Linked DNA regions of Homo sapiens. The protein of the gene in region 2 interacts with the protein of the main gene of each other region in a biochemical or structural test. Each region holds a gene or a part of one and is shown on either strand. Other genes may lie near its edges. The genes, in order: NFIA and KLF8.

What was found.
Region 1: the proteins of KLF8 (region 2) and NFIA form a complex in vitro, tested with the Homo sapiens proteins (one study listed by BioGRID).

Annotation. Positions count from the first base shown.
Region 1 is NC_000001.11:61,398,266-61,410,898, forward strand, and holds part of NFIA (nuclear factor 1 A-type), read left to right. Parts: intron 1-5,838; coding exon 5,839-6,017; intron 6,018-8,296; coding exon 8,297-8,462; intron 8,463-12,633.
Region 2 is NC_000023.11:56,233,420-56,246,052, reverse strand, and holds part of KLF8 (Krueppel-like factor 8), read right to left. Parts: intron 3,164-12,633; exon of another isoform or gene 2,641-3,163; intron 1-2,640. UniProt on the Homo sapiens protein: Transcriptional repressor and activator. Binds to CACCC-boxes promoter elements. Also binds the GT-box of cyclin D1 promoter and mediates cell cycle progression at G(1) phase as a downstream target of focal adhesion kinase (FAK).

The DNA.
Region 1 (12,633 bases), on a different chromosome or scaffold from region 2:
GAAAATGTTTGCCAACTCCTGGTCTAGTCAGGGCCTTGAGCAACAAAGGTCTTGAAGTAGCTAAAATTGATCTAGATAAAAATTTTAAAAGACTTTGGCCTTCTGTTTTCTTGTGTGGGTCTTTCTTTTTCTTTCTGTTTTTCCAAAAGACATTAGAATTTGATCTCTTAGAAAATCCCCTGAATTCAAATGGAATAGACTCTATCAACCATCTTGGAAACTAACCGTGGCATAAAGTTACTTTGTCTGGTAGCAGTAATACAAAAACACTGGTGTTTTGCAAGCTGTCAAGCCATGTCATATATTTCTCTCAATTGACATATCTGGGTCCTTTCACGTGCATCTTCGTGATGTTAAAAGATATGTACCATATGTTTTGAAAAACCTTGGCTCACCTCGAGTCAAAAGCTTTGTTATTTAGAAAAGGCATCACCTCTTAAAGGTTTGAAAAGCATTGCCAATTCTTCTTTCCTGTATCTCTGTTAAAATAAATCCCTTAACTCCAAACTTCTCAGCTTTCATCAATGGCAGGCCTGATTCATGCATGATTTATAAATTAGGGCTATGGACCATTAAGATAGATTTCTCAGCTTTAGGTGGGGTATAATGGTGTTATATAGTGTGGTTTTGAATTTCTGAAGAAGCAAGATACATAGTAGTTGACAACCCAAGCCATTTTTATGTTCTATTTACCCTTATGGAAAGCTTCTTTTGTTTTTTAAGTGGGATTTTTTTCTTCGATTTTCTTTTCCTTTTGAAGCTTTGCCGTATTACAAATTTTTACTTCTAATTATGAGTAGTCAAGAGTTCTTAATGCCACCCTTACGCTATGGAAGTGGTAACTTTCATCTAAAGAACATCTTATTTCTGAAGACAGATAAGAAGGTTTTTCTTATAATGGCGCTAACAGAGAAAAACTGTTTGGAATCTCACCTGTTGCCACTGCCTTTGTATTCATTAACACTAAGACTGTGAAGTTTTGCAGATGCCAGGGCTCAGGAGTGATTATTCGCTCTTGTGAGGGAAGAAGCCTGTATATAACACTGCCTTAAGAGCACACTGTGCCTGAAGGAGGATTATATTTTATTGTTTGTGTTGCTCTCTTGACAGCTTTTCTTTGGAGCCTCCCATAGAAGAGAGACTGGGATTTAAAGGCTGATGCCAGAAAGCAAAAGCTAACGTGAAAAGAATCCAAGTCTCTGTCCAGTGTGTGAGAATCTGCAACGGTTCATGGACAAGGAATAAAACAATTAAGGCAATGTCAGGGTTATAATACAGAAGAACATATTTCAACCCATAAAATTTTGGTTTGAGGGAAAATGTGTGAGAGTTATTAGAGTTCTTGGAGGATGAGCTTGAGAAAAACTACTGGAAATACTAAGAGATTACTTTCTTCTTCTATCTCTTTTTCTTCCCTAAGACTTATAAAAGCAGAAAAATGCAAGATTCCAAGCTTGTCTGGACACAGCTCCCTGATACCATCCTATTTCATATGGCCCACGCTTAGATTTTCTAACTAGTTCTGACTCCTCTTAAGAGCACTCTTATGTGTCTACAAGACCTCCTCCCCATAGTGGACTCTCAGACCAAGAATCACTGGTTGTATTATAGAAGTCTTGCAACATATCCAATAATACAATAATGATCCTGACCTTCTCCTTTCTCAGTCTTAATAAATTCTGCTTTTAACGGAAGAAGCATTTTTGAGTTAAACATGTATATGTATTTTTTCAATTGTTTGAATTTTTAACTTTTTCTCCTTTAAACTAAAACCAAGAGAGGATTTTTAAGAACTGGTGGGCTGCTGGACTGGTGGGGAGGGAATGAACAAGTAAACCAACCTGACTGACCTGCTTTCGTTTTTCAAAGTATCCAGTAATATGATCATTTTGTAATAAATAGCTGAGTATTACACCCTTTGGGAAATTGTGGCTCTCTGTTTCTTTTCGTTGTGGCTACTTTGTTCAGGATGTGTAGGCAGTGCCATTGCAGCCAAAGAAACCTGATCAAATTTCCTTCCTTCCCATCTTATTTATATTCTTTGTGAAAAGCCCAAACAGTTGTTTTAAACAAGTCTGGCCACTCGTTAAAGTTTAAACTAGTAGTGAGATCCATCAGGAGTGAAGTGTTTCTGACACTCTCTGCTGCTCCTGGCCTAGGGTACTAAGAGTATTAGATGCCGGAAGCAGCCAATTTTGTAGTGTCTTTTAATACACAAAATTGTATTAACATCAATGTGGATACAGATGGATGCACTGCAATAAACTGTAACCACTTGAGAAAAGCCTTTATTGACTCTCAAGTAAATAATGCACATTTTAAAGGATCTAAATATGCATTTACATAATGTGCTATAATTTTTTATGGTGTCAACTACTCACACACACACATCCATAAGACATGTTTTTCTTCGTCAAAAATCTGGACTCATACCATTCTTCGTGCATTCCATTAGCATCATGCCAAATTCATAATGGTAGTTTTTTTCTATAAAGCCTGATCTGGCCACCTCAAAATATAGTTGATGAATTTTACTCTTTAATTGATTTAACCCCAGTGGCTCTTTCTAAAATGATTTGAGACAAATAAAAACTTAGGTACAGTAAAAACATCCAAGATGAAGAGAGAAAACAAGAAATAGGAGAGAAGAGAAACAAAGTTAGGCAGGCATTGATGACATCTTAATTCTGAGTTTCAGTGGGTTTCATTGTCTGGTAGAAGAGGAATAGCAGGTTATCTAGAGAAATAGCATCTATTTAATAATAACTAGAGCTTTGTGATGTCAGTAACGTAACTATTTTCTGTTTGAAGAAATGAAGGTTCAGGATCTCGAATGATTTCTCTCCAGTTGCACAGTGAACTGATGACTGAACCAGAAAGTCCAAAGCATGAGAAAGTAAGGGTTGCAAAGGATGACCCTTTAAAATGCAGACTCAGCAATTGCCCAATTTGAAACTACAGGCTAAATGATTTCCTGGTATTAATTAAGAATTAATTGATTCTTATAAATCAGTCATTGTAGAATTAATTCCATATAGTACCATATGTTCTTGTGTTTGTGTTAAACTCTGTTCCACAAGGAAATGGTGAATAAATTGTTTTTAGTAAAATAAAAAACGAAGGTCTAAATTTAAGTTGCTAATGATTGTCTTTTACGTATTTAACAACAACAAAATGAGGGAAAGGATGTTTATAACAGTTAATGAGGAGATGACAGGGTGCTTTTGAGTTATTTCTTCTATCTCATTTCTTTAAAGATCAGCTCTGCTTGATCTTTGCTCAAGTGAATTTCTTTTTTGGGCAGCATTTTCTGTAGGCCACCGTGATTTCATAATCTAACAATTACCCATCACTTTCCATTGAGCACCTGAGGCAGCGGCACTTTATCTTCAAGGTCAGCCTACCAGGGGCTCTTGTCAGCAGAATTGGCACCTTTGTGTTTGGCATTCTGCAAAAGTTGAGTGTTTCGTTTTGTTAGGCTCAGTATATTCTCAGCCTAGTTTGGGAAATATCACATTCTGTCCTTAACTAGTGACTATTCCATCAGACGCAGGGTACCGAGTACAAGTTTTTTGCCACCAGCAAGGAGGACTGTACCATGTTGGATGAAAAAATTCCTTTGATTCTTGAAAGCCAATGGCATAATTTGCAGAGTAAGAGATGACCAGAGCCATTTAACTTTTTAGCTTGTGGGTTTTAACAAGCAACAACAATAGATCCCAAGATTTATCATTCATTGCAGGAAGTCCTAAGTTTTACTCATTTTTCTTTTTTTTTTTTTTTTTTTTTTGAGACGGAGTCTCCCTCTGTCGCCCAGGCTAGAGTGCAGTGGCGCGATCTCGGCTCATTGCAAGATCCGCCTCCCAGGTTCATGCCATTCTCCTGCCTCAGCCTTTGGAGTAGCTGGAACTACAGGCACCCACCACCACACCTGGCTAATTTTTTTGTATTTTTAGTAGAGATGGGGTTTCACCGTGTTACCCAGGGTGGTCTCAATCCCCTAACCTCATGATCCGCCTGCCTCAGCCTCCCAAATTGCTGGGATTACAGGCATGAGCCACCGTACCAGGCCAGTTTTACCGATTTTTCTAAAAGCTCCCTGGCTCTTGACCAGGTGGAGAAACCAAGTTTTGGTTTTAGCAAATTTTATTCTATGTTTAACGGTATGATTATCTTATTAACCTCTGTTTATTCAGTCATTCACTGCACATTCAACAAATATTTATTGAGTGCCAGACTCAGTTCTGGGGATATTGCAGTGGGTTGAAAAGGTATTTACGAAGATGGAGAAGGCTGGGAGAAGTGTAAGCTTGAGAGGAGAAGGTAATGAAAATTCTGATTCAAATAGGTTATGTTTGAGACATCCTCAATTGTATGACCGATGGCAAAATTTCATCTGTTTTGGCTCAGATTTGTTTCTTGAGCCCATAGTAGGAGCCTATGAATATTTATTGGGCAGATTAAAGATTGCATAAATTAAAGGGTTGCACCAGACCACCTGCAAGACATGGATTGGAAAGTTGCTTCCCCTCCAATCGCCCATTTCCAGTCTTTTTGAAAACTACAGATGTCACTCTGAACCCCATAGCATGAGCCATTTCAGTCATTAGTCAGAAAGTGCCCCAATCATGAGGAGATCCCGGTAGGGAACAAAGAACCTATGCCCAGCAACTAATACAGATGCATTCTTTTTCACAGCCTTTAGCCATGCAAGTGGGATAGTGGTAGAAGTGATGGCCTGTCTTACTGAGTTTCTCTTCAGTATTATGAGTCATTCTTGGTATTGGAAAGGTCTTATTTTCCAAAATGTGGACATTCCTGTGATTTTCAGTTTAAAGATTTAAACCGAAGAAAGGAAAGATAAATACTTTCATCTCCTCTAATTTGGGAGAGGTTTCTCTGGCTCTCATTGAGAAGCAAGAGCTGCTGCTATCTTGGCTTGACTTGGTTTGAATATCTGCAACCTTCCCATGCACTGCTCTTATCCTCCAGCCAGTTTTATCAATCATCCTTCTAATTCAAGGGCAAAAGTTCTCTTAGAGAAGTTATTAGGCACCTCACATAAGTTTTTTTAATCTAATGTAATCTTCTTGTTCACATGAAATTTACCAGGGTTCAAATGTAAGGGAGCAGTAGTTGTCTGAGTCTTTTATCAGTTTTTATGGGCACAGGGCCAACATTTTAGCAGGGGTCACTGCCTGCTTACCCTGTGGGTTCCCCTGCTGTAACATATGTGCATTTCTGAGTTTGTCTTTGAAATGGCATCTGAAGGCGACATAAACCATCCGTGTAAAGTGAGGCACCCAAATTGCATGGGCTCATTAAGTGATCATTTACTACATACTTCAAAAAATTTTCATCCTGAATTAGTCCCTAGAAATTTCCTTGAAAGGGGTATAAGAGGTTTAACAATGAATTATTGTCTATGGATAGCTCAGCGTGAAAGGGGATCCATATGTGCAAACTAGAATTTGTCATATGTAATGTCAGTTAAGTCAGGTCTAATCTACCAAATACATTTTTTATTGCTTGCTTCATTAAAAAGGCTCTTAAGGTAATGAATAATCTTCAGCCTCACCAAGGATTATTAATGCCTTTATAACTCATGTCCACTGAAAATAGAAAGACAGCTTGAAACTCTACCCTAATCTAACCTCCGTGTTTGTCTTAGAGCCTTAAGGAAGAAAATCTGTCAGACCTATCCAGTGTTAAATTCAGTCACATGAGCAATATTGTGAATCGGGCCAGGAAGAGAAATAAAGGAGGAAGTTGAATCGGGTTCAGCTATGACAAAGCAGGTCTTTCTTTTCATAACCCTGATGTTTTCTTTTCCTGCAGCAAGTCCGCATGCAACACCATCGACTCTTCATTTCCCGACATCACCCATTATCCAGCAGCCTGGGCCTTACTTCTCACACCCAGCCATCCGCTATCACCCTCAGGAGACGCTGAAAGAATTTGTCCAACTTGTCTGCCCTGATGCTGGTCAGCAGGCTGGACAGGTGGGGTTCCTCAATGTAAGGAAACCTCTTTTTTTCCATTTCTTTAGAAATGTTAGCCGAATATAAAAATAACAAGGGGAGACCTTATGATCATGTGACGTTGTGCTCTAATGTTGTGCTGACTGACTGCAGGCAAATGTCATATTTATTCTAGATTGTGGGAAAGTTAACTTGGTCTAAGAGTGATTAGTCAGGGTTTAAAAACAGTGTTTGTGTTAAGTTTGCAACTGTCAAGTTTATGGATATAAATCAGCTCAAGGGTGAACTATATAACCTTCTAAGTTCTGTGGGCTGATCATTCCACCTCGTGCATTCTAACCCCAGGGCTCATACAGTTAACAAAATAGAAAGACCAAGTAGTTTTAAATAATGATTTGGGGTGGTAGAGAAAGGTAGGGAGATGAAGGGGACAGATGTTTCAGATCAACTAAGTTGATATTTTTGAAAAATACAGTCTTGTAACACTTTAGATCAAGTTGACCAGTACTTGAACTCAAGATGCTGAAAGTACAGTTTATTATGGTTTGTTATTTCTGCAAGTCATTATCTTTCCCACTTATCTTGGTATAAAGCTAAACAGTGTTCAATAGCTTCACATGAATGTTTTTATTTTTCCTCAAATAAACCAAATAATCACAATTTGAAATGGCATTCCAAATGTAAAAGTGATTTTTAAAAATCAGAAATTTTATTTCAAATATAGGATTAGATGTTTACAGTGGAAAGCTGTATCTCAAGGCCAATAATAATAAACAACGACCAGCATAAAGCCAAATTTGATTTTCCTTTTCTACTAATAACTGTGCATGAAGTCACAGACTAGCCATAATTATTACTGGCCAATTTAGGATAGTATGTCACACCATCCTGTCACCGATTTTTTTCACTTGCAGAAATACCTGATTCTGCATATCTGCGCCAGAACAGGCAGCTTTGACTAATGTCTGGTGATGTGTTAGCAGATACATTTCTGTCTAGACAACAAATCAATATGGTGCCTCTTTTCTTTTTGCTTGTACATTCATTTGCTTGGCTTATTCTAAAGCATTCACTTATGGACTCTCAGCCCACTCAGAAATAACGCAAAGGCAAGGTTGCTGGCAAGAAAGCACAGCATTCTGATCGTCAGACGAGGTAGTCTTTGAGGAGCAATACTAAATATATAAGTACTAAATATATAAGTAAATGTTGATGGGGGAGTGAGACTGCCTCTGTAGAATTATTAAGCTTAAATGTAAAAGCCTGGGACAGCAGAATCTCCTTCAACCGAATTTTGATTGGGGACTAAATGTGAACTGTTGTCGTTGGTTGAATAGAGGCCTCTTGGGAAACAATGAAAAAACTGAGCTGATCACCAGCATCAAGCATCTGACTTCTAAATTATTAACCATTTTTGTAATAGTCCTGACACCCTATATAACTGTCAAATGCCCAGTTTTGCATTTTGATCAGAATTTTATAGGACTTAAGGCAGGTCTCTTCATGAAACTATTTTGAAAAAATTGAAAATAAAATGGGTTTTATTGCTCTCTTTGGAGGGGAATTTTTTGTTAAAGAGCTGTTATTTGGTTGTTTTAACATCAGGCAGCAAAATAAATATGACTCTTATGGCATATGCTTATATAATTTAAATCAAAATTAGAAGTGATATTTTTCCCTAGCAGACTTCTGACAGCTGAATTCTAAAGTTTCTGTGCCTGATGTTATACAATATGTGAACAAAATTTTCTATGTTCACTTAACACATTTATTAAATGTTATATAATATCAACTTTGAAGAGTGAAAATAAAATATTACTTTTTTATCTCAAGTGCATATTTAGGAAAATTTATTCTATCTATGTAAAGAAACATAGTGGAATAATGCCACAGTCCATAAAACACTTAGATATTAAATATTTAATAATCATGAGAAAGATAATGAAGGTAGCAGTTAATACAGAAAAATACAAAAGATTCCAAGCAAAAGTTGGTTACTCAGGGGACAAATCCAAAGTGATAATTGGCAGGTGATTTTATGAAACCAGATGCAAAGAAGGACAATGTAGTTCAAGAGATAAGTTTAGGATGCATGGAGCACATGTGGCTAAGAGTACTTTTGTGAAATGCCTTAAGAACAGAACCCAACAATGGACATTTCCGTATGGGCTTATGGAAGAATTGAAGCAGCTAGATACTTAGTAATTTACATTAAAGGTGCCTGATGAATATTTTGTTTTCAGAAGCAGCTAATGGTTGCTGTCTCTTTCTTCTTTTTCTTGTACGTGTGTTTTCTGCCCCCCCCCCCCCCACAGCCCAATGGGAGCAGCCAAGGCAAGGTGCACAACCCATTCCTTCCCACCCCAATGTTGCCACCGCCACCGCCACCACCGATGGCCAGGCCTGTGCCTCTGCCGGTGCCAGACACAAAGCCTCCAACCACGTCAACAGAAGGAGGTGCAGCCTCCCCCACGTCACCAAGTAAGTATGGCTGCGACAAGGCGCCGGTCACTTCTAAAGCTGTATGCACTGGAATCCACACTTAGGCTTTGTCCCTCACTGTATAGGCTCTAGAAAGAGGCACAGATCCCCAGTGATGTTGTAGCATGAGTTTGCCAGACCGAGAATCAAAGTGAACATGACTCTTGGGTACTCCACCAGATGAGGAAAACACTGGGTGTTGGGTGGATGAGATGGTGTAGCTACATACCTAGGACTGAAGTCAAGTTATGAGCTATTACATTTTGTATATTATTTGAGGGATTTCAAATGCTATTCCCATCATCAAGCAGCAGCTACTTACATGGATTCTGCTTAGAAAAAGTTCCTCATTCTTACAGACAGCCCTGCCTTCCAGGAACTTGCAGTCTAAGAGAAATGCACTTGAAAGTTATATACCTCATACATCAAATAGGAGAAAATGTCTAGATCAAAGCACCAACTCAAAGGTGTGTACACTGACCATTCGCTGAGAGTAAGAGCCTGGCAGAAGATCAATGCTAGTAGCCCTGGCAGTCGCATGGTGAGGTTTGGCAGAGGTTGGGGTAGGGGCTGGGGTACGGAGATAGAGGGGAGAGTAGGATGGAAGGAGGAGAGAAGTCTTGGCTCTTCTCTGAACAGTCTGAGAACATTTAATCAAAGAATATAAGATTTCACAACCCTTTTAGATGATGGGAATGATTACTTGAACTAGAGAGAGAGTAATTCTCCAGATATTCCCTGATGTTTTAGATATGGCAAGGGGATAGAAATAGTTTGAATGCACAAATGTGCCTTTTATTAGTGCCTGGAATAATGACAAAAAGAGTGATGGCTGGAGTTCCTAGGTGATGGATGCCCTAGCCTTGATAGATGGTGTGATGAGCACCTTCCCTAAAGCTGTAAAGAGGCAGCAAAGTATAAGAGAAGGATAGGAGCTGTGGCAGTGTGACCCTAAGGAAAGCCTTCAAGGGGGTTGTCAAAAGAAGTGAGACTGAGGCAAGGAATCTACAGAGGAAAGGATGTAAGAGCAGCATAGGAAAGGAGTGTTAAGGCCAAGAACTTGAACCACAGTAATAGGTGTAGAATGGAACGGGACATGGTGGGGAGTGTTTTGTAGACATAAGCATCGGGATTGGACAGTCCTCTGGATGAATGCGGTGAATGAAGATTCTAGGCCTCTCAGCTTCCTTACCTTCAGTATTGGAATAATAATGATAGTGAATACAGGAGGGAAAGAGACAAAGAAGAAAACTGAGCCCCTGTTTATGCCATGTTCATAGAATTTGATTCTGGGGGCACGGAATCCAGATGGCTAGAGGCCCTCATGGACACATCAGAGAGTGAGCTTTGGGTTATCCAGTATTTATGCATTTTGATAATATATGCAGAAATGAGCAGCACTGTGCATAGATTCTGTATCAATAGCCAAAAGATTGAAGGTTCAGGGGCAATCTAGGGAAGACCTACTTCTCTTGGTAAGAGGTGATTCAACACTTGTCAACAAAGGAGAAAACCCTCAGTGTCCAATGACAGAGAAGCAAGCTGGGCTTGGCCCATGGATCTTAGAAGCTCAGCTTAGAAGGAAAGCCTCTGCTTCTCAGAGGTTTGAGGCTTGTTCAAAGATGTCACATAAATACACAATAAGTGCCCTGCTCGTTGTGTATTTATGTAACATCTTTAAACAAGTCAGAGAAATAACTGCCCCAGACTCTACTTACATCTGTTCCTTGAGGATGTTGGCTTACAGATTATGCCTACTGTGCCCTGTCCATGCCTCTGCATACCATTTTCTGCTCGTCTTCTCTCTGTCTGTGCAGGACATTGCCACAGTCTTTTAAAAGCTGCATAGTAATATGCAATCAATTCCGTGGAAACAGATCCTCACCTCCACTCTCAATGGCTCGTGTGTCCTAATGAGTTTTTCAGTAACGGGAATGAGGCTCTGCTGAGGCACAGCAGAAGAGTGGAAATAGTAATGTGTGGCTGTTCAAGTCTAAAGGATGGGGGCTCAAATGCCCACCTTTCAAATTACTAACTGTGTTTCTCTTTGAATCAATTTCCTCTTCTATAAAATGTAGATGATAATATCTACCTGGCATGTTTGTTGTGAGATCAGTTCTGATCATTGGAGTATTTTATTATCTGCCCAAACTCTTACATAGTGGAAGACTCCAGGCTTGGGTAATGGTAAAATATATCTGTAGGACTTGGAGAAGCTACTCAACCCCTAAATTGAGTTGATGCCTTTGGGTCCACAGTTCTAGACTCCACTCCGTGGATTGAACCAAGTGCTATGTATAAGATGATACCTATCATCCTCTTGTGCCCAGCCTCAAGCATCTTGTCAGCACTAAGGGGCAAAGGGCAGAAGGAGTCTTGGCAGATCCAACTCATATGGTTGCATGTTAGAGCAGCACTTAAGATTTGGGGTGGGGTGGGGGTGAGAGAATATCAGGAGAAAGAGTCCCAGAGCTTGATACAGATAATTTGATACTTACTTTTTGAATCATGGGATTCTAGAAATATAGACAAAACAAAATGTTCTACCGATGACACAGAAAGGTTTTTATCATCATTCATTTTAGCCCTTGTTCAGCTAAAGGCTTTTCTAGGGTATGATGAATTCATAGTAATATGTAGTTTCACAGCATACTATTGCTTACCATTTTCTGCTTTCTTAACAAGATGGTGTTAGGCTGGGAGAGCTGTAATTTATAGCGTAGGAGAAGCCTTTCAAATTAAAAATCTTGAAGCCCACTCATCCTTATTTGGAGGGGATTTAAGGGCCCTCATTTTAAAATATCGTCTCCCATGCCCTGATTTCTAAACCAATTGATAAATAAAATATTTTTTTAAATCAGAAGACAAAATATCACCTTTATTATGAGAGAATTTAGTTTATAACTGTGGGCAGGGCACTTCCTAACACTGAACCCCCAATTACATCGTCATAGCTACCAGGTCGCTGGCAGGACTAGACCACAGCAGCCCTTCCTACATATGGTCCGCCCTAGCCTGTAAAGCTGATGGCATGAAGGTGCGGGTGGCAGTGTGCTTCCCACCAGCACCTGTCCCCGAAGAGGAAGAGACAGGGTGGGGTGGTAGGGACTAGTCATGTCCAGTTTTTCCTTTGAAGCCCTTACAACCTAGAGAGTAACAGGTGAGAGGGTGGAGAGAAGCCAAGAGTAGATGGAAGGGAATAAATATCAGGAGTGAAGTAGCTTCTCCCTCCCTTAACATTCATCTTTGATGACTGCCTTTTTCATTCATTTATTCAGCCTGCACCTATCAGGCATCTGTGACACGGCATGGCTGTGTTAGTGTGTGGGATTCAGAGATGATGGATCCCTGCTCTCAAGAAATGGGGATCTATTGAGGGAAAGGTAAACAGGCAGTTTACACAGGATGACACCGGGATAAAGGTGTGTATAGGTGCCATGTGAAGACATGGGAGGGAGTTTGGTCCAGTGTGGGCCTCCAGGTAAAGGTATTTTAGAGGAGTTGACTTCTAAGCTATTCAGTAGGGATGACATCCTGGTGTCTTAAGAGAAGATAGAACTTTTCTTCTGAAACCAGCTGGGGGCCTAAAATTGGATTACCACTAGATAAAAATGTAGGGCAAAACTATAGTTTCAGAAATCAGGTGCTTTCTTAGAAATTAAACACACAGGTTGAGTGGATTCTGTTTATCTTGTCAGCTTATGAGAGCTCAACTTTAGCAAGAAGGAGCATCATGACAGGGTATTCAGTACATGTGCTCAGCATCCCAACAGTTTGATGTCTGAAATGGAGGCTGTTCTCAAAAATGTAAACTGTATGATGTAAAACAGCCTTTTCTATTTAGGAGTTTGAGATGACTTGCAATAAAATACAATTCTAAAAATAAATATAGGGACTGGGCTTCGTGGCTCACACCTGTAGACCCAGCACTTTGGGAGGCCTAGGAGGCGGGGCAGATTGCTTGAGCTCAGGAGTTCGAGACCAGCCTGGGCAATGTGGTGAAACCCCATCTCTACAAAAAATACAAAAATTAGCTGGGTGTGGTGGCGTGCACCCGTAGTTTCAGCTACTTGGGAGGCTGAGGCAGGAAAAATGCTTGAGCCTAGGAGCTTGAGGCTGCAGTGAACCAAGATCACGCCACTGCATTCCAGCCTGGGTGACAGAGCGAGAC
Region 2 (12,633 bases):
AGGTAATCCTGGTCAACCTTCTAAATATTGGTAGGAATGACTATAAGGAAAGATACTGGGAAGGTATATAACCTCCTTTTTTAAATTTAATTTTAAAAAATATTTACCCAGGCAAAATTGAAAACTGAAGAAAATTAAGGCCCACAGAAGGTCTTAAAGAAGGCTCTGTTTTTTTTTGAAGAGGGATTTATGAGCCTCTTGCTCTTCTCTAGAGTTGGAATTTCTGCTCTAAGTGCCTAAGAGAGACCAGACAGCTGCACAAAAGCTGTCAGGGAAGTGGTAAGGAAATATACAAAAGGGGGTTATAGTATATATGGCCTGGGCCATTGAGATGTGAATCACTCAGGCAGGAGGACACCAGAAATGCAAATTACCAACTTGAGGTAATAACCATTATTCTGCTTGGATTGGCTCTTCAAGCCTTTGTGTCTACAAGCTGGACTTTCTGGTCCTTCTCCTAAGGGCATGGGTCCTATAGAAGGAAACAGAGGAGGAAGAAATAGGGAAGAAGATTGAGTCCCATCGCCAGTGGGTCAATGTCTCATATATGCAGGACATCACAAACCACATTCCAGGTACTGTGACTACAGGAGTTTGATAAAATTATGTAACTTTTGTCATGTCCCCAAGTTTATATTATACAAAAGTGGCATTTCCTATAATGATCAGCTTGTCTTACAAAAGTGAACAGTGCCTCCAAGGAACTGGAGCAGGTGCTGGCTAAGAAGAAAACATCCCATCCTTTGGCCAACCCTGAAAGGGAAAAATGCCTAGAGATAAAGTGACAAGGGGTGCAAAGCAGAGTCATTAGAACCTACAACTAAAAAGAAAGCAGAGCACTGGAAACCCTGACCCGGGCCTAAGAAAGACCTTGTGCTTTGACAGGATACAGCATTTGGACAATTCAAATAATGTCTTATATACATCAACATAGCTTTACAGTAAGGAAATACACAGCTTTCATATAATTTCCATTTCACACATAATAAATTTGGAGGCCTGACATCACATAGTTTAGAAGTGCTAGAATCAGAACTGAAACTTTAGTCCTCTGACTCAAATTATAGTGCTCCCCAACCATTTTCTAATACCTCAAATCTGGTGAGCACCTTCTTTCTGAAAAACTGTCTGCTAAAAGAAGAACACATTTAAGGACAACACAACTAATCACTTAGGAAGATCTTAAGCAGATATCATTCATCTTTGGCCTCTAACCTATAAGAAGTACTGGAACTATTTAAAAATAAAAATCAATGCTTAAGGGTTTTGAGAAAGACTACAGTACACATTTATTTTCAGACAATTTTATTGCACATCTTCCAGAGGAATTAAGAGTAGTGTTGCAATGGGCCTTTGGGAAAGCCTTCAGGATATCTCTGCAGCATGACATTAATAATGGAATGGTGATAAAAAGAACTATAACAGCCGACATTCATTGAGTGCTTACTTTGTGTCAGACACTGTTCTGTTTATATCTATTTATCTATCTATAGATATCTTCATTTAATCCTTACAACCCTAGTAGTAGGCACCATTATTTCCTCATTTTAAAAAGGAAGAAAGAGGGCCTGGCACAGTGGCTCATGCTTGTAGTTCCAGCACTTTGGGAGGCCAAGGCGGGAGGATAACTTGAGCTCAGGAGTTTGAGAATAGCCTGGGCAACATAGTGAGACCCCATCTCTACCAAAAATTTAAAAATTAGCCAGGCATGTTGTTGTGTGAGGCTGAGGCAAGAGGATCACATGAGACCAGAAGGTAGAGGCTACAGTGAGCTATGATTGTGCCACCGCAGTCTAGCCTGGGTGCAGAGAGACCCTGTTTCAAAAACAGAAAATAAAAATTAAATTGAATTGAATGAAATTTAAAAATGAGGAAACTAAGGCACAGAGAGATGAAGTTGCTTACCACCAAATCACCAAGTTAGTAAACAGCAGAGAGGAGATTTAAACCTCAGTAGTCTGGAGACATAAAGCAGCTATAATGAAATTACCTGGGTACCAGTAGGATCTTCCAGCTTCTGTTTTAAGCAGATTCCATAGCAGAGAATAAATGGTTGCTATAAACCAACTACTTAATAAAGGGAGATTGCAAAAGCCTCCAATTTATCTCATTTCCCCCAAACAGGCTCACACCTGTCACCATTGGAAAACTCAACCTCACCTTCCAGTTGTAGCACCTCAGCAGGCAGCTCTGTATGACTTTTCTATTCAAGAGTTTTGGGCCGGGCGTGGTGGCTCATGCCTGTTATCCTAGCACTTTTGGAGGCCGTGGCAGGTGGATCATGAGGTCAGGAGATCGAGACCATCCTGGCCAACATGGTGAAACCCTGTCTCTACTGAAAATATAAAAATTAGCTGGGAGTGGTGGTGCATGCCTGCAATCCCAGCTACTTGGGAGGCTGAGGCAAGAGAATCGCTTCACAGGAGATGGGGAGGTTGCAGTGAGCTGAGGTCGCACCATTGCACTCTAGTCTGGGAGACAGAGTGAGACTCCGTCTCAAAAAAAAAAAAAAAAAAAAAAAAAAGCAAGAGTTTCAACATACACAAAAGCTGGAGAGTGACTTGAGGTACCCAGTCTAAATTATAAGAACCACCACCACAGCAGGTACTCAGAAGTAGCTGTAAAACAGAAAACCCCGATAAGATGGCGCGGAAAGGGAAGAAGGAAGCTCCTGCCCCTCCTAAAGTCAAAGCCAAAGCAAAGGCTTTGAAGGCCAAGAAGACAGTGTTGAAAGGTGTCCACAACCACACACACAAAAAAGAAGATCCACACACCCCTCACCTTCCAGCGGCCCAAGTCACTGCGACTCTGTAGGCAGCCCAAATATCCTCGGAGGAGTGCCCCCAGGAGAAACAAGCTTGACTACTATGCTATCACCAAGTTTCCGCTGACCACTGTGTCGGCCATGAAGAAGATAGGAGACAACAGCACACTTGTGTTCATTGTGGATGTTAAAGCCAACAAGCACCAGATCAAACAGGCTGTGAAGAAGCTCTATGATACTGATGTGGCAAATCAACACCCTGATTTGACCTGATGGAGAGAAGAAGGCATACGTTCGACTGGCTCCTGATTACAATGCTTTGGATGTTGCCAACAAAATTGGGATCATCTAAACTGAGTCCAGCTGACTAATTCTAAATTTACGTGTATCTTTCCAGCAGAAAGAAAAAACAAACAAACCAGAAAACCCCTGTAGTTTTCCTGCTTAGCTTACCTGGAATGAGAGAAAAGGAAGTGGGGGCAAACTAGGATGTTAAAAAGAACAGAATTTAAGAGGAGAAAACATATTGCCACAAAAATAAATGAAGGCTGGCAGCACATAACATGTATGAACGACAGTGACAGAAAGACTGAAATCTAGTATTACATGATTACTACAACAGCCAGCTAAACTTGAAGTAGTGAAGTCATATAAGGTATTGAAAATATAAGGTGATAAGAAATACCAGAAAAGGGATTTATAACTTTGGGCAAGTCATTTGACCTTTCTATGTCTGTTTTCTCCTTTGAAAAATGGGAATACACCAGTGTAGCCCTCCCCACTCATGGCTGTTAGGAAGACCAATCATGATAACACATGTAAAAATATCTTATAAGATGTAAAGATAAAATAGCCATATAAGTTTTTAGGATTACTTCTGTCAGAAAAATTTTAAAAGTACATAAATACGGTCACATACTTAAGATGTAAACCATTTCCAGTAACAAACTTATGTATGATTTTTGATATCTTTATCTCCATTCTCCTATGAGTTCATGTTCTACAATATCACCTGCATAGCCTCCAGTGCTTTCAGCCAGTTGCGCTTCTCTCAGACGCTGATGTTAAGCTACATTTTCTTTTCCACAAAAAGAAAATAAATACGCCAGAATGAAAAATTACCTTGGAATGTGCTAGAGATTAAGATTCCTCATTCTGGAAAAAGATGAAAGCTAAGAGGAATTATGATAAAAGTCTAAAACTGGAAATACAAGTGGAGATGAAGCTCAATAAACTCCAGGCCTGCATTTTAGTTCTAGTTTAATCAGTAAATTGTTGTGTGACCTTGAGCAAGTCTCGTCACTTTATGTAGAAAGTGGAAATAACTCCTCATTCACCTCACAAGATACTTGTAAGAATCAATTGACAAAACAGATTTAAAGGTATTATAGAAACATAATCTCAGATGCCTAGAACCAGTCCCCTTGCCTTGAATCTCCATTGAACAAATATATTTATGTTTAGACAATAATTAATCTTATATGCAATAAGCAGATAAAACTCTTACTATTAAAGAAGGCCATGTGAAACAATGGGAAAATCATTTAACTAGGATCTGGGAGACTTGTATTCTAGATCAGGCTTCACTGTTGTCTAGCAGTGTCATTTTGAGTAAACTACTTAGTCCTTTTCAGATCCCTTCCAGTTTATAACATTCTATGATATATGATTTTATTACAAGGACATAGATGGAAAATCCATAATAATCATCTCAGGTTTCTGCTTAACCTGTGAGATTGATGTCAAGAAGGATTAAGTTTTCTACAAACCATCAGGTAAACTTGAGTCTCATTCCAATGGCATTTAAAAAATTACTATGAATGACTGGGTGCGGTGGCTCATGCCTGTAGTCCTAGCACTTTGGGAGGCCAAGGCGGGTGGATCACTTGAAGTCAGGAGTTTGAGACCAGCCTGACCAACATGGTGAAATGCCATCTCTACTAAAAAATACAAAAATTAGCCAGGTGTGGTGGCACATGCCTGTAGTCCCAGCCACTTGGTAGGCTGAGGCACGAGTCACTTTAACTCAGGAGGTGGAAGTTGCAGTGAACTGAGATCATGCCATTGCACTCCACTCTGCATGAAAGAGCGAGGCTCCATCTCAAAAAAAAATTATGGGTGATTTTAAATGCATACAAAAGTAGACAAAAACCCCATGCGCCTACTCTCAGATTCAATGATTTTCAGCTAATGGTAAACCTTGTTTCATCTGTACCTCAACCCACTCCCCCTACCTCAATGTATATTTTTATGCAAATCCCAGATATATCATTTCATGGCATTTCTTTTTTTAATTTTAAAGTTTGAGGTACATGTGCAGGACGTGCAGGTTTGTTACATAGGTAAACGTGTGCCACACTTCATGGCATTTCTAATGGGACATATTTAATTTTCACAATTGCCCTGTGAGGTAGGTATTACTGTTGATCCCACTATACACATGAAGAAATAGAGTCAATGGGATTAAATAATCCCAAGGTCACATAAACTGGTAAATTATTGAGCTGGGATTGGAATCCAGGTATGATGTTTGATACCAAAGCTCTTTTTTTTTCCTTAAAGTACTTGCTACTACCCTGTACTTTGAAATAGTTTGTTAGAGTTGAAAATAATAATAATGAAGGTGTTTTTATATCTTTGCAGCAAACTCTAATATTGAATATATGTACAGAGTATTAAAAGATTCCCACTAATTATTATGTTAATTATAAAACAAAACCTCTAGGAATTACAACTCCAGCATGGCACTAAGGGACAAAGAGCCACAGCAGCAAAAACTCATTGCTCTGAATCATTATGTAACATCTCATGTGATCCTCTTCATTACTTCATACCTTTATTTCATGCAACAATCTCCTCCAATAAATTAAACATGGTGGTAGTGTGGCAACCACAAATAATTTGTAACAATACAATTGGTCCTCATCCATGTTTTGTGCAACAGGTACTTAAGGGAAGAGACCTTGGCTCTTGAATAACTTTTCTACTCACTGCCTGAGCAGTGGCTCAGGAGCACCAAGACAAGGCATCCTAGAAGAGTCTTGGACCATTTCAGTTTGTAGAGCTCCAGAAAGTGAGGTTAATGCAGTAGCCAATTCAACGCTACACATCTATTCTAGGATCTAGCTACAAAATTAAGGAATAAGTATGTTATTATTCTTTTAGCACCAACTGTTATGTATATTTATCAGAACTAGTTTAACAAACAAGAAATAAATATATTCACATCACATCCCCGCCCATTCTAACTGAAGATGAAACAACCGCATCATTGAACGTATAGGAAGAAACAAGAGATGGAATAATTAGCTCCAAATAATCAAACTTAAATATATGCTCAGCATCATGTAGACCTTTCTGAAGATACTGTACTTTATTTGTGATGTACAATATTTCAAGAAAAATGGCAAATAGAAGAGAAATGCAGAAAAAAATGAAAGAAACTAGAGAAATAACCAATTTTTTTAAAAGAAAACAAAATGGAGCTAGATCAAGAAATGTAGATGATTACATCTGGCAAAAAGGGGGACAGGGAAAAAGAAAGCTGGCCTGATAATTGTCTTCAAAGGCACATTTAGGTATTTGGAGAAAGTAGAACTACTATGTCATTTACAGGACATCATGGTTAACTTAAAGGGGAACTTTCTGATGATAATCAAGTCTTTACCAAGACCCTACTAAATAGTCAACACTGTAGTAGATATTATGTGGGAAGGAGGGAGGAGGTAATACCAGAAGGAAGAAAACTTCATGGTCTCTGGCCTCTATCCTCAGTAAATTTGCAGTCTAGGTCAGATAGAGAAAACTGGCAGCCCACTGCAGATGTTGGCCTGGTTCTCATAGTGATGTTAAAGATTAAAACAGAAACATCTAACAACCTTTCAAATGCAGATTTCATGTTTTAAGAAAAAAATCCTATTTCTTGCTTTTCTAAAAAAGCTGAGAGATTTTATAATACAGAGTGTACATTGGCACAAGGGAAAAATTAGCTGGAGATGATCAACAGCTGTCCCCTTTAGACAGGGCATGCTTTTCTCATTTTACTGGGCCCTGGAGATTTAAGTTTGAGATCCCAGGTCCGTGTGATGAGAAACAATTATGCATAAAATAATAGCAATCAAATATTACAAGATAATAGATGCTGCATTGCTGGATTATGATTTGAGGCTATGAGCAATAATTGGGAGAGGAGGAGATTACTGAGAATGGAATAGTCAGAGAAAATTTCAAATAAATGGTTTGCTTTGAGGTGGGCTTTGAAGAACTACGACAGTCAAGAAGAAACAGAAAGGAAATCCAGACGAGAGGAAAAGTAAACTGCATACTCCATGAAGGCAAGGGTCCCACCTAAACTGATAGTTTACCTAACCTAAAGTGGTAAGTTTACCACTATCACCTCAGCTTCTAGCATGATGCTTCCAACTTTGTAGACACCCAGTAAATGACTGTGGAGTGAAGGAGAGTAACATAATTTTTAAAAGTGTTTTAAGGAATATATCCTTGCAGTGGTCCTCAGAGTAGAGAGGGCAGAAAGAATCAAAGTAGAACTAGAAGCTATTGGAATATTCTATGAGTACTGCGGTAAGAGCTTACATAGGTGCCATAATCTCAATATCTAGACTAGGGGTCAGACAGGTTAAGGCCACCTAGGCCAGATGAGTAATGTGGTGAACAAAAAATACAAGTACTGTTTTAAAGGGGAGGGAGGGAGAGGCTCATCAACTCTAGGCAATTATTGCCAAGAGAGAATGCTGGTTCAGTATCTTCTGATTAGTCAAAAGAAACTGGAATTGAAGAATTTTTGTTTTCTTTTGAGACGGAGTTTCACTCTTGTTGCCCAAGCTGGAGTGCAATGGTGTGATCTCGGCTCACTGCAACCTCCGCCTCCCAGGTCCAATCGATTCTCCTGTCTCAGGTTCCTGAGTAGCTGGGATTACAGGCATGCACCACCACACCCGGCTAATTTTGTATTTTTAATATAGATGGGGTTTTACCATGTTGGTCAAGCTGGTTTCGAACTGCTGACAGGTGATCCTCCTGCTTTGGCCTCCCAAAGTCCTGGGATTACAGGCATGAGCCACTGCGCCCGGCCTAGAATTCTAGAATTTTAAGGGAAATCTGATTTTGAAATATTGGCAATCAACCAACTTTTAAAAGTGTGGGACTAGGCAATTTGACACACTGCTATGAACTGACTTGTGTTGTGTCCACTCTCCAAAAAAAAATTAATAGGTAGAAGACCTAACCTAGTGACTATATTTGAAGATAGGGCCTTTAGGAAAGAAATTAAGGTTAAATGAGCTCATAAAGGTGAGGTTCTGATCTGATAGGATTAGTGTCTTTCTAAGAAGACACACCAGAGAGAATTCACTCTTTCTCCTCCCATTTGTACAAAGATCACATGAGTACAAAGTGAAAAGGTGGCCTTCTACAGGTCAGAAAGAGAGTCCTCATGAAAATCTGACCATGTTGGCACCCTGATCATGGACTCCCAGCCTCCAGAACTGTGAGAAAATACATTTCTGTTGTTTAAGCCACTCAGTCAATGGTATTTTGTTATGGCAGCCTGAGCTCTCTAATGCACTGCTTACAAAAGTTTTTATTGTTATTACAAATAACACTGCAAAAGTTTGGAAATAACTTAAAGATCAATCAACAGAAAACTGTTTAAAAATTTGTGGCTCATGCATATAGTAAAAACCTATGCAGTCATAAAAAAGAATGAGGCATTTAAAAAATGTGCATATATGAAAATATCTCCAAAGTATATTTTTAAGTAGACAAGCAAGTTGTAGAGAACAATATGCAGAATGTGTTACTATCTGTGTATAAAAGGTGAAGGGGATATATATATACACACACACACACAAACACACACACACACACACATATATATATAATAGAAACTACCTCATAAGGTTGCAGTGAAGAATAAGTGTGTTAATTTTGTAAACACTTAGAAGAAGGCATGAAAGTGAAGTAAGCAGTGAGAAAATATAGTTGTTGTGGTACTTACATATATACTAATATTATATATGTATTATATATAATATGAGCTCATCTAACCTTAATTTCTTTCCTAAAGGCCCTATCTCCAAATACAGTCACAAGCTTAGGTATTAGGTCTTCAATGTATGAATTTTTTTGGGGGGGATGGGGGGGTCACAATTCAGTTCATGTCAGTATGTCAAGTTGCCTAGTCCCACACTTTTAAAAGTTGATTGATAACCAGTATTTCAAAATCAGATTTCACTTAAATTCCTAGAATTCCAGTTTCTTTTGAATAATCAGAAGATACTGAACCATATATATATATATATATATATCCATCTATCTATCTATAGAAAACCAAACATGATTTCACATTATCTTTGAGTAAACAAATGAGCCCAATACTACAATGTTATTCACACACACACACACACACACACACACACACAAACATACTCATTGCTTGATATACACTAAATATCCCTGGAGAGATTCCTAATAAATAGATAACATTAGTTGCCTCCAGCGAGGCAAAATGGGTGGCTAGAGAACAGGAATAGGAGGGAGACTTTTTTCACCATGCACCCTTTAGTAAATACTGAATTTTGAGCCAGGCGGAATGCATTACCAATTGAAAATGCATGTTTTAGTTGAAAGTTTTTAAATTTTAGGGAAAACAAAACACGTGTGAGCTTTAGTTGGTCTGTAGGCTAATTGTTTGCACGTCTCGCCTAAATTAAGGTGGTGGCAGTTAGAATAATAATAAAGAAACAGATACCAGATACAAAGGGGAAAAAATACAACAGCCATTGGCATCTAATTAAATGAGAAAATGAGGAAGAGGGGAAAGGGACATGAGTACCACAACAGCTACATTTTCCCACTGCTTCACTTTCATGCCGCCTTCTAAGTGTTTACAAAATTAACACACTTATTCCTCACAGCAACCTTATGAGGTAGTGTCTATTATTATCCCCAATGCACAGATATGACAACTAAAGTACAGAGTTTAAATAAGTTCACCATTACTATGGTCATAGTAAGTTGCAGAACCAGGGAAGTGAAAGGAAGAGTCTTGAATGAGGAATGAGTGAAGAGTCCAGAGGTGATGATGGGCTGTATATTAGAAATGGTGAGTGTGAGGTTACAACAAAATGTCAAATTGCTAGTGATTTGAAATATCTGGATTGGGCTCTTGAGTTAGGTTATTGCTCCTTAATAATCCTAGAGCTTAGTTTGCCCACATCACATCTATTTTGTCTAAATACACAAATAACATCTTTTAGTATATTATACAGAACATCTAGCACCTTTCATATATTTAAATCCAGCTTCCTGTCCACTAATCTACATTCCACTTCTGCAAACACACAGCAGCATTTAAATAAAACAAATTTTTTTAAATAACAAAAATGATGAGACCGCAACTTATGAAACATATTAGATATCAGGCACTGAGTTCAATGCTTTCCTTACATTATTTATAATCACAAATTATCATGTCATTTTAGAGATGAGGAAACAGGCTAAATGATGAAACTCAGTTGAGGATAGTAAACATTAGCATATAAAAATCAGGAAGAGGTTGGGCACGTGGCTCATGCCTGTAATCCCAGCACTTTGGGAGGCTGAGGTGGATGGATCACCTGAGGTTGGGAGTTCGAGACCAGCCTGACCAACATGGAGAAACCCCGTCTCCACTAAAAATACAAAATTAGCCAGGTATGGTGGTGCATGCCTGTAATCCCAGCTACTCAGGAGGCTGAGGCAGGAGAATCACTTGAACCTGGGAGGCGAAGGTTGCGGCAAGCCGAGATCACGCCATTGCACTCCAGCCTGGGCAACAAGGGCGAAACACCGTGTCAAAAAAAAAAAAAAAAATCAGGAAGAATACCAAACATGATCTCACACTGTCTTTGAATAAACAAATGAGCCCAATACTACAATGTTATTCCCTTATTCATACTCTACTTAACAATAAGATGGTAATCATACTAGATGATCATCTATGTCAATCATCCTAATTAAGTTTTCCTTCATTCACAAAATCATGGCATTGTAAAGCTAGATCTTAGAAGATCATATACTGCCCCCACCGCACCAGGCACAGACAATCTGGCAAGATCAAAAATGACTAGGCTCTGTTTGCTACTTTGGTTATTGGAATTCACTTAGCCAATGAGAACCCCACCTCAGAAATGCATGTATTAGAACAATGAGAGTGGTGATGGTAGTCTGCTACATGGTTATTTTTTTCCCAATTTCCAATGTGCCCTGAAAAGTCTAAACAAGAGGGATGTATAGCTCCTGAGGGCTCTGAAGGTACAGCCATTAAGTAAGTTGGTCTTGAGGGTGGACTACATAGATGCACCTGTCATTTTTACTTTTGAGGTTATTATTTCTACTCTTCCTATGTTTTCTGCCTGTCTGCCCTCCAGGCTTACCTGAAGACATTGCTCCCCACCCATTCTCTGTGTCCCCAGCAGTCACCAAAGGTCAACAACTCTCAAGGGCTTCCCCATAACTCTGAAGAATGGGATGAGGTCATTTACCTATCACTTGTTTCTGTTGTCCAAAAGTCCTGTTGGTTATATCATTCTGGTTAAGTTGCCCAAAGAATGAGAGAAAAGGCAGGCTAGTAGCCCTTTCTTTCAGAAGTGATGAAGTCTGGTGGAAACAATGTTAAATCAGAAGCAAATAAAACCTGTGTTCTAGCCTCAGCCTTTGGACAAACTAATTCAGTCTTCCTAAGTTTCGTTTTACCACATCTGGAAGGTGTTTTAAGGACAGAAAAACACTAATTTTATCAGCAGTGGTCCAGAAAAATAGTTCCAAACTGAGTAGAAAAGGGAAGTTGAACTAAGATACAAGTGGCAGCCTCTGCCACATACACAAGATATTTCATCCACCCGAGTATCTACTGAGATAGAATTATTAATCTGCATTCTATGGAAGAGAAAAGCAAGGCCCAGGGTGATGCAGCTAATAAGTGGTGATACTAGGGTTTCAAAGCAGATTACCCCAAACCATGGCAATCTCCATCAGTTTCAAATCCAAATTTAAAGATTATTCTTTTTGCTCAATTATTACCACACTGGGTGACAGGTGCTTAATAAATGCGTTTCTTCACGATGAATATAATACCAAAAGAAATAAGACATGGTGCCTTTGGCCACCTGTTTGGATGTGATTTATTTTTTCCCAAATTCTTAGGGTTAAAAAAAAAAGCCCACAAAAAGACAGCTCCGCCAAGTGGCTAAACAAATGGATTCACTTCAGCAATCACAGCAACTCGGCCCAGTCAGTCTTCCACCTACACAGACGAACCAACTGCCTTGGCCACGTCTTAAAGGGCCGGAGCAGAGCCTAGGCTCTGGCTTCCTTCTCCAACCAAGCTCAGCCCCTCCTTAAAGAGCTGGCACGCCCAAAGCAGCTCCTCCCCCGCAGCTGCTTCCAGGCCTCACTCTGTGCCTCCAATAGCCTAACTTTGCACCTTAAACCACTGTCCCCTCCTCCTTCTTTTCAGAAGCTTCTCTAGGTACCCGCTATGGCTTCAGGGGGTTACCTGGGAGCTTTGGCCTTGTGAATCCTGTTCTCTCTGGTTGTGACTTTGGCTGTGTGGGGTTAAGTCAAAGACAATCCTTACCGCTTAAGGAGTATTGGGAGTGCCGAGCCAGGGGAGACTAGACTAGACAAATCCATCCATTCTTGCCCCCTTTCACTTCTTCCACCAAGCTCTCTCCTCTCCTTCTTGGCCTTTCTTTGCCCAGCCCTTTAGCAAAGTCATTTTCCCTTGAGTTTCATTTGATTCCACATAGTGTTCTTAACCTTCCGCTCCCGCCCCCACTGCTGAAACCCCAAGTGGGGTGTGTGGGGGG